Linked DNA regions of Homo sapiens. The protein of the gene in region 1 interacts with the protein of each later gene in a pairwise test. Each region holds a gene or a part of one and is shown in the gene's direction. Other genes may lie near its edges.

Region 1 (3,812 bases):
AGAAAAAGTCAGGGTTGTAGATAACAGGTTATTTCTGGTGCAAGGAATAAAAATATTGCAGCACGTCCCTTTGTGTGGCCTGGATCTCCTGACACACAATTCAGCTTCCTTCATTCCATTCTGCTGAAATTTTGTTCTGTTGTCTATGGCTAGAAGTTGAAAATCATTTCTGGTTTTGTAGAACTGTTTTTTTTTTTTTTCTGTTTTTTTTTTTTTTTTAAATTGGTTATTCTGATCATGTTTGTTGTAAAGGAAGTAGAGGTGCATGATGGTTCTATTGGGGGCGGGGCCAGTTTTCTTTTGTTTCTATTGGTGTCTCTCTCTGGATTGAGATCTGACCTTGGCCTTGGCTCTCTCACCTCCTATTTTAGGTGGACGTGTGACCAGAAATGGACATGTGAGCTAATTTTTATTAGCTCCTGTCTGTTCACCACATTCTCGTAGATTATTGGGCAAAATATCTGGCAAATTGGACTTGGGGGTGGTAATTTGATGATGGGCTGAATTATTTTGGCGAAAGATCGTTTATATTCAGTTTCACAGTGGAGACTCTTATTACTTAATGTTTTGCTTTTCTGCCTAAGGAGGTTTTTTTTTTTTTTTAATTTTTTCTAACAAGGTTTGAAATTTCAAGGGCCTGCTTTATAGTTTGACTTTGGAGCAAGCTAGGAAAAGAGGTTTGCTTATACTTCCAGCTCTGCACAGAGGTGAACTTGAACAAGGGTTCTTGCTTTTGCAGAACGAAAGCAACAAAGATGGCTGGTCAGTATAAGGCTGACCTCTCCCTCGTCCTAGAAAATAAACAGCCAATGGCTTGTTTCACTTGAGAAACTGGGTTTTAAAACTCCTCCAGTGTCAGATACAATATTTTTCTCACTTTTGACTCAGCTCTTGGCATGCTGCTTCCTCTGACCTCAGAATCCTTACGTCTTCTCCTTGGTGGGTGATAAGAACTTCCTTGCCATATATGACTGATGTATATAAGCCGACTTCTCATGGTCATGAGGAAATTTTGAATTTTTTCCATGTTCTTGTGATGTTTTGGGTCAGTTGTACCTTCTTTCTGGTGATGTAAAATGAAGTGGCTCTTTTCAGGAGCCCTAGCCCCCACAAGGTCTTGCTGTGTGACCTTGGACAAATCACTTTTTCCTTCAGAGCCTCAATTTTTGCATTTATAAAATGAACACTTGGGATCAGATCAAGGATAATAATAAATAGGTTTCATTTCTGATTGTAACTCCAAGGAATTGGTTATGGCTGCCTGGATCACTGTGTTGAGAAGGATTCTGAGGCCATATCCCGACTCCCATATTCTAGAGAGAGGGGTGCAGTGGCCAAACAGCATTGTAAATCAGAGTGGAGAGTGTACCTCTTAGTTACCATTCCCAGGCGAGACCTTGAATCATGGGCCATTAGTGGCCTGTGAAGTCAATTTAGTGAATCACAATCAGAATTTTTTAAAAACAAGAATAGACTAGAATATAGGGGAACAAAAAATAGCAGAGGCATACCACAGGGTACAGGTGAGTATCCTCTCATGAAACTTGTATTTATATTTGTGGATGTATGTGTGTGATTTGAAATAGATTTCCTCCTGTGGGTCACGGCCAAAAGAGTTTGAAAGGTACTGGACTAGCTGAACCGCCATGATGTGCTGCAGGTATACTGCACTTTATTGCTTATACTTTATTTTTGCATTTATTATCTCAATTAACTTTTAGGTGAACCCTGTGGGTTAGGTGTCCTGTGCCACATATTTTGAGCCCTGGTTGAGCCCACTTCAAGGGCCACATATGAAGAAAGCTCAGCCACATGGGCAGCCCAGGCACATACCCCAGCTTGTTGGCCTTGGATGAGTCTGGAAGGACATATGGAAAGGCAGATACAAGTTTGAAGGCAGCGTCTTTGCAAGGTCTTCTTGCTGGAGAGGAGATCTAAAGTGTGTGGAGTCCTTGTCTTTTGTTCCCCACTTTTAGTTTAAATTGCCAGAGAAATTTTTCTGGAGTTAGAGAGTCTGTGTTTGTGCTATATTTAATTTAATCAGACAAAAACACAGTCTGTATTTTTGTGTGTGTGCACTTCCTTAAAAATCCCAGAATTTCTGTCTTAGTCTCCTCATCTTTTAAATGTGTCAGGTCAGCGCTAATAGAAATATAATTCAAGCCCCCGTTGCGAGCCACATATATAATTTTTAATTTTCTCACAGTGTATTAAGGAAAGTAAAAGAAACGGGTGCCATTGATTTTAACATATTTAACTCAGTATATCCATAATACTATCCTTTCATCAAGCCATCCATATGAAAATTATTAATGTGACAAGTTACAGTCTTTTGCGGGGGTGCTATTGAGTCTTTGAAATCTAATGTATTTTACTCCTACAGTACATCTCAATTCTGACCAGCCACATTTCACCTGTTCAGCAGCCACATGTGGCTGGTGGCTACTATATTGGACAGCTCAGGTTTGGACCAGTTGTCGTCATCACTGGCTGGCCCCAGAAGGGTAGCAACACCTTTCAGACCTCTTGGTTTTGTTGGTGAGACTTCCTATCAGAATCTCACATGCTCTGAGGCATTTCAGCCTGTAGTGATGATGAGTTCCATCCATATAGCTCTCCTGGCTAGAGTAGCCCACATTTCCCTTTTATTTGTCCCAACGCAGACTTCTGCCAGGGTTAGGCCACTGTGCTGTAGTTAAAAATGACAAATGATGGCTAGTAACTCCGGGATGATGTGTTGCAGCCTGTGAGCTGTTGAAGTCAAGGAGTGTGAGTCCGGGAGGCTGTTGCTTTTTGAAGTGCATTTTAAATAAAGTGTTGCCAGAGAGAAGGATGAAGTTGCAAAAAGGCAGCAGGTGGCCAGGACCAGGGCTGGGGTCTGAGGAGAGGAAGGAGATCAGAGGTAAAAGATGGCCTGGCAATGAAATCTATTTCTGAGCCAAAAACATGGCATCAGCAGGAAATCCCCCCAGGCCAGGCCTTAGGTCAGATGCATAGAGATTTTCCGAATCCACCCCAATTGGGAAAATGGAAAGCTGGGTTTGAGGTCTGCCAGACCAGAGTTTGAAATCCAGCCTCATGGTGTGGTTAGCTTTGTGTGACTTCGGGAAAGTCACTCTGGTTCTGGAACCACAGCTTCTACATCTGGGAAAAGAGGGTTAATGATCCCAGCCTTGCAGGGTTGTTTTAGGATTAAATGAAGGGGTCACATGTGGAGACTCTCAGCCGGTCTGAGGGCCTGAGTAGGTGGTCGACGCATGTGAGTTGACTCAACCCAGTGGCCAGGGATTCTCCATTTGGGGAGATTAAGTCCCACTGACAACACTTGGGGTAGTCCTGGAAACCTGGTGGCTTATCGTTAGCAGGCAAAGTTAGGCGACAAGTGAGAATGTACACTCTTGGCTGTTGCTTTAAAACAGCCTGCCATCCATGAGACTTTCTTGTTAAAGCATTCTGGATGCTTTCATTCCGGGGCTGCTCTAGCTCCTTGGAATGTTTCTGGATTTGTTTCTGAGCCTGTGGCAAGGCTTTAAAAGGGATACATCTCAATCGCGGGTGGACCTGTATGTCTTTGAGCTTCTGCTCATGCTGGGGCCCTTGCCTCTGGTGCCCCTTCCCTCATTCATATCTGCTTCGTGAGAAACCAGACCCTCCTCGAGATCAGCTGCACTTCTTCTTCTGTAGAGCTCCCCCAACAAATTTCCCCAGGTAGGCTTCCTCTCCCTCTGCCCCCATGGTACCTCCCAAACAATGTGGACCCACAGGTCAGAGTTGGTTGTTTGCATTTCTGCTTCTCCAGCCAACTTGTAACA
Region 2 (3,812 bases), on another chromosome or scaffold:
CGCCCAGCCTAGCCCCAGCCCTTCATCTCATCCACCCATACAGCCAGGGAAACTGAGGCAAGGTACACTTTGGGCTTGGTCTTTCTTGTGACTTCTTGAGTTGGGCAGTGGGCCCAGGCAGAGAGCGGGGCCTTGGTGTGTGTGAGGGTATTTTCTTAGAGCCCCTTGAGAAGCCAGGAGTGGACTGGGGGAGACGGGGAGGTGCAGGCAGGACCTCTGACCTATGCTGGAGGCCAGCAGAGCCGGGGTTGATCTCAAGGCCGCCATTTACAGGTCAGGTGACCTTGAGCTGGGTCTCTAGCTGGGTCTCTGTTTTCTCATCTCTACAAGGGGGTTGAGAATCGAATGAGACACTGGATTAGAATGTGCAGGGCTGCCTCTGAAGGCATCAGCATTGACTGAGGGGTTGCTGCGGCTGTCCCATCCTCATCCTGTAGGCCAGGGTGGTCCTGGCTTGTTCTGGTGTGTTCGGCAGCCCAGCCCCATTGGGCCTCTTCTGCACGTGCCACCATCTCAACCCGACAGACCTCACTGCCTGAATTTGCTCTAGGACTCAGCCCCCTCCCTTAGGTGGTCTGTGAGCCTTTTGCATACCTGACCCTTGCCCCACTCACATCGGGCCTTCTTGTCGCCCCAACCTGTGGCCCTGGGTAGCCCTTGTGTGTCACCTCTGTCCCTCACAGCGCTGACCTTCTTTCCCCTCAGGAACCCTTTGCCGGGGCTCCTTTGCCCCCTTCCCAGCCTCCCCCAAGAGCTCCTCAAGGGCAGATGGCCCCGGGCCCGGCACACGCCAGATCTCAGAAATGCTTAGTGGGGCGCCTGGGACTGCCTGGCCTTTGAGGGTGACCCTGGTCCCTTGCCTCCCTGCCCCGGGCAGGTGCCAACATCGCCTCTGGTGAGGAAGTCGCCATCAAGCTGGAGTGTGTGAAGACAAAGCACCCCCAGCTGCACATCGAGAGCAAGTTCTACAAGATGATGCAGGGTGGCGGTGAGCGCAGGGTGGGCGGCGGCGGGCGCCGGGTGGGTGGCGGTGGGCAGCCATGAGCACAGGGTGGGCCGGGCGTGGCTGGCTGCCTGCCTCTGACCCCTGACAGAGGCCCTCTGCTTGACCCCCAGTGGGGATCCCGTCCATCAAGTGGTGCGGAGCTGAGGGCGACTACAACGTGATGGTCATGGAGCTGCTGGGGCCTAGCCTCGAGGACCTGTTCAACTTCTGTTCCCGCAAATTCAGCCTCAAGACGGTGCTGCTCTTGGCCGACCAGATGGTGAGTCCCCGTCCCCTCCATCCCCAGCCAGATGCCTGTGGGCCCAGGATACCAGCCCTGCCTCCTGCCCCCAGAGGATGCCAGAGGATGGGCCTGGGCCAGGGGACCTTGTCCACTGGCTATAGAATTGTAGGTGTTTATTTATTTTTTGAGGCGGAGTCTCACTCTGTCGCCCAGGCTGGAGCGCAGTGGTGCGATCTCAGCTCGTTGCAACATCCGCCTCCCAGGTTCACGCGATTCTCCTGCCTCAGCCTCATGAGTAGCTGGGATTACAGGCACCTGCCACCACGCTGGGCTAATTTTTGTATTTTTAGTAGAGACAGAGTTTTACCAAGTGATCCGCCCATCTTAGCCTCTCAAAGTGCTGGGATTACAGGCGTGAGCCACCGTGCCCAGCCAAGTTGTTTATTTAAAATGTGATTTCAGGCCCAACTCCAGACCTGCCGAGTCAGGGCCTGGGACTCTGCCTGGGGTAGTTTTATTTATTTATTTCAAAAATATCATTTAATTGTAAGAAATAGAGATGGGGGTCTCACTGTGTTGACCAGGCTGGTCTCAAACTCCTGGCCTTGAGCAGTCTTCCCATCTTGGCCTCCCAAGATGGGAATTAACACGGGATCACAGGCATGATCCACCACGTCTGGCCTGCCCTGGGTAATGTAAAGCCTGCGGTCGGTCACACAGACCTGGTCCTGTTCCAGACCAGTGACCGTAGGTGAACGCCGAACCTCTCTGAGCCTCAGTGGCCTCATGTGAGAGTCTCTCCTTTGTTGGTTGTTGAGGGGATTAGGTGAGATACCATTCAGCGCCTTGCCAAAACAGGCCCCTCTAACAGGCTGTTGTTAAGTACTAAGCCCTTCATCAGCATAGGGAGGAAAGCTTCTTAAAAATACAAAACTGTAGAATTTTGAACTTGGAATGGAATGTGGAGATCTCGTACAGGGGTTTTAATCTTGGTCTGCAAAAGCCCTGCGATGTAGGCTGAAGGTGTGTGAGCAGAGGGTCGCCAGAGCCCCTCATGGTGTGAAACTCAAGAAAGGTGCAGGAGATGTTGAGCTGTGCTGAACCTGGGGCCAGAGCCAGAGGCCACGGCATGTGGATGGATATTAGTTTGAGTTTTAAAAACTCGACTGAAAAGGTGGCTCAAGTCTGTAATCCCAGCACTTTGGGAGGCCGAGGCAGGCGGATCTCCTGAGATCGGGAGTTTGAGACCAGTCTGACCATCATGGTGAAACGCCATCTCTGCTAAAAATACAAAAAATTAGCCAGGTGTGGTGGCGCGTGCCTATAGTCCCAGCTATTCGGGAGGCTGAGGCAGGAAAATCACTTGAACCCTGAAGGCAGAAGTTGCAGTGAGCCGAGATTTTGCCACTGCACTCCAGCCTGGGCAACAGACCGAGACTCCATCTCAAAAAAAAAAATATCAAAGGAAAGAGGGCCATGTGCCTGTCTGAGTTTGGCATCCTTCGGAAGCCCTGTCTTTTGTGTTCTGCCTCTGTCACCTCTTCCTGGTCTAGGCTTCCCCCATGTTCCCTGCCTGCCCCTCGCCCACATCTGTTGCCTCTCTGGCTCCCTAAGTCCTGTGAGTGTGGGGCCGGGCAGGCAAGCCTTCCATGGGGAACCAGTTGCCTTTCTAGCAGACTCTTCATTTCTGGATCTTCCCATTAGCTTTCCTGCAATACTCTCTTTCTCTGTCTCACAGCCAACTTGGTGAACTCCCCCTTTAGAGTTCATCCTGATGTCACATTTTCCAGGAGGCCTTCTCTGGCCTGCCCCTTAGTTATCCTTCATGGTCGAAGGCAGGCCTTTCTCCCTCTGCCTTTCCACCTCTGTGGCCCCAGCCCCTGCCTGGCCCAGAGTGCTAGGCAAGGGCCCCTCTGTTGAACAAATGGCCCCCCTCCTCCCCAGATCAGCCGCATCGAGTATATCCACTCCAAGAACTTCATCCACCGGGACGTCAAGCCCGACAACTTCCTCATGGGGCTGGGGAAGAAGGGCAACCTGGTCTACATCATCGACTTCGGCCTGGCCAAGAAGTACCGGGACGCCCGCACCCACCAGCACATTCCCTACCGGGAAAACAAGAACCTGACCGGCACGGCCCGCTACGCTTCCATCAACACGCACCTGGGCATTGGTGAGGGAGCCAGGCCTGGAGCAGTGTGCACCCGGGGCCACTGGCTGGGGCCCAGCTCTCTGGAGCCCTCTCACCCCCTACCCTGATGGAGGCCCCCAGGCTCTTTTCTAGTGAGAAAGTCCCCACCCCGTCTGCCCCCAAGCTCGTGCTTATTCCGTGTCCTTGCACAGTCGGGTCTTCCCCTTCGTAAGCCAAGCTGTGTGTGCCGGGCGCCTTCCCTGGCCCTGCTTCCTCCTCCGCCCTGTTGGTGCAGGCTGGAAGATACAGGCTCAGAGGTTTAACATGGGTTGCTTAAGGTCATGCAGCTTAGCTAATGCCAAAGCTGGACTTGACCCCGGCCCTGTCTGATGCTGAAGCTTGTGACCTCTCCACGGGGTGGGCCAGGCAAGGGGGCAGTAGGTGCCCTCTCA

What was found.
Region 2: the proteins of ZNF618 (region 1) and CSNK1E interact in binary tests that used the Homo sapiens proteins (3 or more experiments, as listed by UniProt).

Annotation. Positions count from the first base shown.
Region 1 is NC_000009.12:113,879,195-113,883,006, forward strand, and holds part of ZNF618 (zinc finger protein 618), read left to right. Parts: intron 1-3,812. UniProt on the Homo sapiens protein: Regulates UHRF2 function as a specific 5-hydroxymethylcytosine (5hmC) reader by regulating its chromatin localization.
Region 2 is NC_000022.11:38,300,314-38,304,125, reverse strand, and holds part of CSNK1E (casein kinase I), read left to right. Parts: intron 1-877; coding exon 878-988; intron 989-1,116; coding exon 1,117-1,265; intron 1,266-3,173; coding exon 3,174-3,402; intron 3,403-3,812. Other genes in the region: TPTEP2-CSNK1E (casein kinase I), read left to right, coding at 878-988, 1,117-1,265, 3,174-3,402.